Regions from separate parts of the Homo sapiens genome. Here regions 1 and 3 are each linked to region 2. The links come from fine-mapping of genetic effects on gene expression. A gene starts in region 2. Each other region holds a variant in brackets. All regions are shown on one strand. Distances are from middle to middle.

Region 1 (2,762 bases), 21 kb after region 2:
CTGCACTCCAGCCTCAGTGAAAGAGTGAGACTCCATCTCAAAAAAAAAAAAAAAAAAAGAACTGAATGAAAGAATGACATGGAAGTACTTTAGCCAGTATCTGATACCATTGTGTAATGGGAAAAAATGGTTTGAAAGAGACATAATAAAGGTATTAAAAATACATGTAGAAAAAGAGAAAATGTAAAAATCTACATATTAGACACAAAATGTAACTATCAGATCAAATGAATTTCAATTTCATACCATTATTCTAATTCTATAAACAAGATGGAAGAGCTTCTGCATCGAGCATAAAAACTAAAGCAGTTACCAAGCCTATCAGAAAGATTCTTCTCTAATTTCTCCCACGACGATGTCTGGGATCCCAGGGTTGCTTGCAAATTTTCTATTTGTCGAAGCAATGGTCTTGTTGTTGATGAAACACTTTGACTCAGTTCCTGGTTTCGATTCTCTGCTTCCTGGAGTCTCTGAATCATGAAATTCTGAAGTCATTACCAATGACAGCAATAAAAACATTAAAAACACTAGCAAACCTGAACTTTGAGAGGTTCCTGGAAAATTATTTTTCCAAGAGAAAATAATTTGCTTTTTAATTATTATTATTAATTTTAGAAACGGGGTCCCGCTCTGTCACCCAGGCTGGAGTGCAGTGGCACAATCGTGGCTCACTGTAGCCTCAACCTCCTAGGCTCAAGCGATCCTCCCAGCTGGGACTACAGGTACACGCCACCACACCTGGCTAATTTTTGTATTTTTTTGTAGAGACGAGGTTTCATCATGTTGCTCAGGCTGGCCTCGAACTCCTGAGCAGGCAATCTGACTGCCTCAGCCTCCCAAAGCATTGGGATTATAGGCATGAACCACCATGCCCAGCCCTTAATTATTTTTCTAACTGTTCAATCCTTCCAAGAGAGTTAGATTGTGTAATACAGTATCTAAATAAGTACTTCTTTGGCCAGGCACGGTGGCTCATGTGTGTAATCCCAGCACTTTGGGAGGCTGAGGTGGGTGGATCACCTGAAGTCAGGAGTTCAAGACCAGCCTGGCCAACATGGTGAAACCTCATCTCTACTAAAAATACAAAAATTAGCTGGGCATGGTGGTGCACGCCTGTAATCCCAGCTACTTGGGAGGCTGAGGCAGGAGAATCGCTTGAACCCAGGAGGCAGAGGGTGCAGTGAGCCAAGATTGTGCCACTGCACTCCTGCCTGGGCAACAGAGCAAGACTCTGTCTCAAAATAAAGAAATTAAATAAATAAATAAATAAGTGCTTCTTTAAAAAGCGTTTCTAAGATAGTCTTCAATTACCTGAAGGTTAAAAAAGAGTTCATCCAAACCTCTTAGTAGTTACCTCCTCATCCAAATATTTCTAAGTATTTATAAAAACTGAAAAATCAACCTAAATTGTATTTTCTCTCCCTTTTCCTCTGCATGTTATAAATGACTGAAAATTAACAGAGGCATAGAAACCGGGAACTATTACCTGTCCCACAGTAATCAAAGACTGACAATCATTAATAAGCGATTACAAATGGAAAAGCAATACTGAATACATATAACAAATCTATCATAACATTATTTTCTATAAAACAAAATAAGGAATTTCCTTGTATAATTTTTAAGGTGCCCACTCTGATTTATTCACACAAGCCACAAAAATTCAGCAAATGCTA[G/C]GTGTGACAGTAATCCTCTCAATTCCATGAACACTATCCCACTGAGGAATTCTTTTATTTCTAGAAAAACACATACTTCTTGGATTTGTGTTTTGGAAACCTGTGACAGTACCTGCTGAAGTTCACCGATCTCATGGCGTAAATAATCCTCCTTTCTGGCAGCCGCTTGTTCTGTACGCTGCAATGCAAGCCTAAGGTCCCCCACCTGTAGGAGGAGAAACAATACATTCACAAACAATGGTACAGTATTATCTATAACTTCCCACTAACTACATATTTTGTGTTGTGTCAACATTGTTCATGTATACTATTTCATACTCTCCAATGAACTTTTACATATGATTATCACATCTCTCATTCATCAAGCAATTCTAAAACTGTATGTATATTCAATGTTTACTTAGAAAAGCATTCTGTTAAGGCAAAGAAACGCAAACAAATATGTATAAGGCATAGCCATTACCATACAATATTGGAGAAAAGACAGTGCGTCTATAAATATTTGCCACATCACACAGAAAGTGATAGGTGCTATACGGATTATAAAAGCTGGGGGCTCCACTCATATGCAGGAGCATACATTATAAACTACCATAGCCTTTTTGGAAAACGTTATAATATGTTTAAAGAATCATCAAACTTCTCACATCCTTTCACCGGGCCATCCTAGTCTTGGGAATTCACTCTAAGAAAGCAGATACGTAAATACACAGGGATATTCCCTACAGTATTAAATAGGCTAGCAAAAACAAAACTGGAAATATTCTAAATCTCCATCACTAGTAATCTATAGTTGCAAATGTCGATACAACATGAATATAACCATTAAAAATTACAATAAATGTATAAAACATGTAAAAAAAATTTCTAATATACTATTAAATGGAAAAACTATAAAATAACACGTAAGACATCAATTATGAAAAACACATATATGGGAATAGAATGAAACACTAACACACAAAACTGACAGTACTTGGAAAAAGTGATGGATTTATGCATGGTAACTCATATATGCTCTATCTCCCATTCCCCCAATTTTTCTGTATTATTATTATTCTAACGTATTTTAAATTTAAATTACTG
Region 2 (2,762 bases):
AACTCACCGATCAGTGGAGAAGTAACGCTTAGGCGATGGAAAAAATCTAAAGACGCAGATCAGAAAGCTGGCGTCTGGCGAGGGCATGTACCCACTTGCATAAGGCGGCTGGGGGTGGCTGCTGGGCCTGGCACAAAGCCTTCCTGGTGTCGGTCGTCCTGCAAGGCCCGCCGGGATGGGTGGCTGCACTCCTCCAGCACACGGACGCTTTACTGGCCAGGCTACTTTTCCTTCAGCTCAAAGCAGCTGGAATCACTCCACTCCAGAAACCCTTGATTCGATTTCCACAGGCCTAATGAGGAAGGAAAAAAGGGAAACATCTGAAAGATGATGGATAGGAGGCAAAACCTGGGGTTGACACAGCGGGCGAAATGGGGCAATGTCGCAGAGAGAGAGAGCTTGGAAAAGTTTAAAGACGGCAGTGGGCAAATGGAAAGTTCAACACGTGAGACCCCGAATGACACCTCAACGGCTGGCCCCTACTTGTGCCAAAAAGTCTCTCGGCGGGTGCCAGGCAGGGCTCAGGAAGTGCTCGGCTGCCCCTTGAACGTCAGTCCCGGCAGAGCCCAGCTGTCCGCTTGAACGTCAGTCCCGGCCAAGGGCTGAGGGGTCAGTGGCGAGCACCCCGCCGCGGCTGAGACGCCGCGCTGGGGTTCCGGACCCCGGGCGCCGCCAGGGATTGCTTCGGGGTCGGTGATCTCCCGGGGCCGCCCGCCACCGTGCACCGCGGCGCCCCGGGTCCCCAGCGCGCCTGGGAGGGGCCCCGGGGAGCGGCTCCGCCCCGGCTGGAAACCTGGTCAACGCGGCTAGGGCCCGGGGCCCGCCTGCGCTCCGGGCGCTGGGAAGGGGCCGGGCGCCCGGGGCCGGGGAGGGCCAGGATCGGCTTCCGACGCCCGCCTCCCGGCCCGCAGGGAATGGGAAGGCGCGGGCGGAGTGCGTGCGTAGGCTATAGCCCTCCGGGAAGCCGCGCCGGGAGCGGCTACCACCCGGGCAAGAACAGCGCAGAGCGCTGCGGCGGCGGGAAGGAGAGCGGGGGAAGGCTCCGCAGATTGCGGGGGAGTCCCACCTGGAGCCGGGGCAGCCGTGAACTACCGAGGAGGAGGCGGAGGAGACGGCGGCTGTTCCAGAGGAGGGAGTCGTCATAACCGGCTACTGCCGCTCACCGGAAACCTCGGGCGCGGGAGCTGGGCCAGGGGGCGCCAAGGAGCAGCTGGGACACCTTGGCCAGCCGGCGCCGTGGGCGGGCTCGGGCCCCGCAGAGGCAGGACCGGGACTACACCCAGGAGGGCCAGGGCGCGGGGCCCGACGCTCGGAGCGGCTTCAGCCCGGCGAGCGGCCTCGACCCGGCGAGCGCAGCAGGGAGGGGCTCAGAGTCGAGGAACCATCTGCCCTTCCTGGCGTTCTCCCGCGAACGTTCGCGCGAGTCCGCCAGCTCCCTCACCAGGGCCGGAAAGACCGACGGCACGTGCCGGCGCCGGACGCCCATCTCCATCGCAGCAGCCCGCGCCTCCTTGAGCGAGAGCGTTAAAGCGCTCAGAGGATGTTAGGACGGGGTGGGTAGAAAACCTGACTCTTCGTGTCTTCTGCGTTGCACTGAGGTGGATTTTTACTTTTGTCTTATTTCAAGCAGAAGTTGCCGCCCTAACTTCCAAATTTGGGGACTGAACATCGTTCACCGAATACACTTTGTGATGGTGAGGATACTTTGGAGTCCACACACATTTTAAAAGCAGTATAGTTTTACCTATCCGTAAACTCATCAAGTTCAAATGCTACTCTGTGGAGTTTAATTTTTATGGTTTTGTTAATTTACTTTATTACTGCTTATAATTATTTGAACTCCCATCCCCCACTGTCTTTTCCTCTAAGCTCCCCCAGGCCTAGTATTCCATCTACAGCACAGTAGAGTTGATCATTAAATAGTGACTAAAGTTGAACTGATTATATGAAGGTGATGACTTCAAAATAAACATGCTCAAATGAATATAGTCACCAGAAGTTAAATAATATGATCATAAGGAAACAAGTTTGTTTCCAAAGGCTTACATGCTTTTTACGTAATTTTTAAAAGTAATGTTGTTTAAGAATTGTTACAAGTTCCATTAGTGACCTGCTAAATTAGGAATCTTACCTGGAATTTTTTTCAAATAATAACAGCAAGAACATGTGGTGTTTAACATGTGCCAAACATTGTTTTAAAGCACTTTACAGTATTAATTTATTCTTTTTATTGAAAAGATTTTGCCTCTAAGGGAACTGTCAAGAGGCATGTGAACCGGAGCAACTCCATCTTAAATAGGAGCTGAGTAAAATGAGGCTGAAACCTACTGGGCTGCATTCCCAGGCCGTTAAAGCATTCTAAGTCGCAGAATGAGATAGGAAGTCGGCACAAGATACAGGTCATAAAGACCTTGTTGATAAAACAGGTTGCAGTAAATAAGCCGGCTAAATCCCACCAAAACCAAGATGGCCATGAAAGAGACCTCTGGTAGTCCTTACTACTATACTCCTATCAGCGCCATGACAGTTTACGAATGCCATGGCAATGTCAGGAAGTTACCCTATATGGTCTTAAAAGGGGAGGCATGAATAATCCACCTGTTTAGCATATCATCAAGAAATAACCATAAAAATGGGCAACCAGCAGCACTCAGGGCTGCTTTGTCTATGGAGTAGCCATTCTTTTCTTCCTTTACTTTCTTTTTTTTTTTCCTTTACTTTCTTAACAAACTTGCTTACACTTTGCCCTGAATTCTTTCTTG
Region 3 (2,762 bases), 22 kb before region 2:
CCACTTCCATCTGACAGCTGCCTTTCAGCAGGAATTAGTTCTTTCCAGTATAATTACCACATGCTTTTTTTTTTTTTTTTTTTTTTGAGACTGAGTCTCACCCTGTTGCCCAGGCTAGAGTGCCATGTCGTGATCTGGGCTCACTGCAACCTCCACCTCCCAAGTTCAAGCAATTCTCCTGCCCCAGCCTCCCGAGTAGCTGGGATTACAGGCGCACGCCACCACACCCGGCTAATTTTTGTATCTTTTGATAGAGACAGGGTTTCACCATATTGGCCAGGCTGGTCTCAAACTCCTGAGCTCAAGTGCTCCGCCTACCACGGCCTCCTAAAGTGCTGAGATTACAGAAACCACACCCAGCCTGATTTATTTTTTGAAAAGTAGTTGATTATGAGCTCCATTAGCTAAGAAGATCAATTAATTTTTAAATGGTTTCACTTAGATTGAAAAATTCAGCCAATAGAAATCAGAAATATGCATTGTAGCACTACATTCAAGCTCTACAGTTATACATTATGTTCATGTCTCTTTTTTATAGCATTCTTTTCTCAGATTTTGAAAATTTTATGTTGCACATATTACAGTTATTTCAAAGTTATTGAGATCTGTTAGATGTGAAAAAAAAAAAAAAAAGCCTTCTTTCCATGTTCCTCCAATGCCATTCTAATAAAGGCCCTTCTCAACACCATCTAAAATGAAATGTCCCTGTTCTGGCTCAATAATAAATAAAGGGCAATTAAAAGAAGTGATTCTAGATGGTTTCCTGAGATAAAATACTTCAGATAAAATAAAATATGTTTGAAAGGAAATTTTAATAATAAAATACAGTAATCCTGACTGATCCTTCCTCAGGGAAGTCATACATTATTGAATAAGAACCACCTCCAAAAGCTTCTTTTCCATGTTTCCCAAGTCCAAATTATCCACCATTTGGGAAGGAGGCACTTCTTCCTATACTCATGTTGAAGAATATTTGGATAGTCTTCAAGATGACATAAAATTTCCTTTAGTGTGTCTCAAATTTAAACATGCACATAATCTATGACTTAGAAATTCCAATTATAGGAATCTGTCCTACAGAAATGCTAGGATGAGCATGTGAAGATATAGGTATATTGAAAGGACATATGTGTTTATGGTCACATTTCAGTAAATAGCACAGAACTGGAAACAAAACTAAATGTGATGGGGGGTGGAGTGGGAAATGAATACATGCACTGATGCATGCATCCAACTTCCAAAACATCCATTAAACAGAATACCACATAACATCTAAAGCAAGGATAGCCCTAAAGGTACTGACTTAAAAAGACATTCCACAGATAATACTAAGGTGGCAATATGAGACAGAGAATGTATTTTCCATAAGAATATAAACATATTGGCCAGGCTCATGGCTGTAATCCCAGTGCTTTGGGAGGCTGAGGTGGGAGGATCACTTGAGGCCAGGAGTTCAAGACTGTATTAGCCAGTTTTCACACTGCTGATAAAGACATACCCTGAGACTGGGAAGAAAAAGAAGTTTAACTGGACTTACAGTTCCACATGGCTGGGGAGGCCTCAGAACCATGGCGGGAGGTGAAAGACACTTCTTACATGGCAGCGGCAAGAGAAAATGAGGAAGAAGCAAAAGTGGAAAACCCTGATAAACCCATCAGATCTCATGAGACTTATTCACTATCACGAGAATAGCATAGGAAAGACTGGCCCTCATGATTCAATTACCTCCCCTTGGGTCCCTCCCATAAGAT[G/A]TGGGAATTCTGGGAGATGCAATTCAAGTTGAAATTTGGTGGGGACACAGCCAAACCATATCATTCTGCCCAGGGCTCTCTAAATCTCGTGTCCCCACATTTCAAAACAAACCATGCCTTCCCAACAGTCCCCCAAAAGTCTTAACTCATTTCAGCACTAACCCAAAAGTCCACAGTCCAAAGTCTCATCTGAGACAAGGCAAGTCCCTTCCACCTATGAGTCTGTAAAAACAAAAGCAAGCTAGTTCCTTCCTAGATACGATGGGGATACACGTATTGGGTAATTACAGCCGTTCCAAATGGGAGAAATTGGCCAAAACAAAGGGGTTACAGGGCCCATGCAAGTCCGAAATCCTGCATGGCAGTCAAACTTTAAAGCTCCAGAATGATCTCCTTTGACTCCAGGTCTCACATCCAGGTTACACTGAAGCATGAAGTGGGTTCCCACAGTCTTGGGCAGCTCTGCCCCTGTGGTTTTGCAGGGTACAGCCTCCCTTCTGGCTGCTTTCACGGGCTGGCATTGAGTGTCTGCGGCTCTTCCAGGTGCACAGTTCAAGCTGTCAGTGGATCTACCATTCTGGGGTCTGGAGGATGATGGCCCTCTTCTCACAGCTCCACTAGGCAGCACCCCACTAAGGACTCTGTTTGGGGGCTCCAACCCCACATTTCCCTTCCACACTGCCTTAGCAGAGGTTCTTCATGAGAGCCCCGCCCCTGCAGCAAACTTCTGCCAGGGCATCTAGGCATTTCCATACATCTTCTGAAATCTAGGTGGAGGTTCCCAAACCTCAATTCTTGACTTCTGTGCACCGCAGGCTCAACACCACATAGAAGCTGCCAAGGCTTGGGGCTTCCACCCTCTGAAGCCACAGCCTGAGCTGTACATTGGCTCCTTTCAGCCATGGCTGGAGCGGCTAGGACACAAGGCACCAAGTCCCTAGGCTGCATACAGCATGGGGACCCTGGGCTCAGCCCACAAAACCACTTCTTCCTCCTGGGTCTCCAGGCCTG

Which allele goes with the higher level. Alleles are on the strand shown, and positions count from the first base shown. SD is a standard deviation of normalised expression in the study named. Not every link is listed here.
For the expression in monocytes after LPS of the gene that starts at base 1,177 in region 2, A is the high allele of the variant in region 3 and G is the other (large effect, 1.0 SD a copy in Quach 2016).

What was found. PIP is the estimated chance that this variant, and not a neighbour inherited with it, causes the effect.
Region 1: its variant is the best candidate, but not a certain one, in a credible set for the expression of EOGT in whole blood (INTERVAL, PIP 0.62).
Region 3: its variant is the best candidate, but not a certain one, in a credible set for the expression of EOGT in monocytes after LPS (Quach 2016, PIP 0.70).

What each region holds. Positions count from the first base shown.
Region 1 is chr3:69,033,235-69,035,996 of GRCh38, forward strand. It overlaps TMF1 (TATA element modulatory factor 1), which reads right to left. Exons shown (of 17, transcript NM_007114.3): 9 at 1,789-1,881; 10 at 314-470. Among named protein-coding and RNA genes, the nearest start is that of MIR3136, 14 kb to the right of the region's middle. The variant G/C (reference allele first, on the strand shown) is at 1,677.
Region 2 is chr3:69,012,508-69,015,269 of GRCh38, forward strand. EOGT (EGF domain specific O-linked N-acetylglucosamine transferase) reads right to left here and starts at 1,177. Exons shown (of 18, transcript NM_001278689.2): 1 at 1,067-1,177; 2 at 8-292. EOGT-DT (EOGT divergent transcript) reads left to right here and starts at 613. Exons shown (of 1, transcript NR_185971.1): 1 at 613-2,762. RefSeq lists silencers at 495-1,044, 1,105-1,404.
Region 3 is chr3:68,990,285-68,993,046 of GRCh38, forward strand. The region is part of intron 10 of EOGT (EGF domain specific O-linked N-acetylglucosamine transferase); the gene reads right to left. Among named protein-coding and RNA genes, the nearest start is that of EOGT-DT, 21 kb to the right of the region's middle. The variant G/A (reference allele first, on the strand shown) is at 1,752.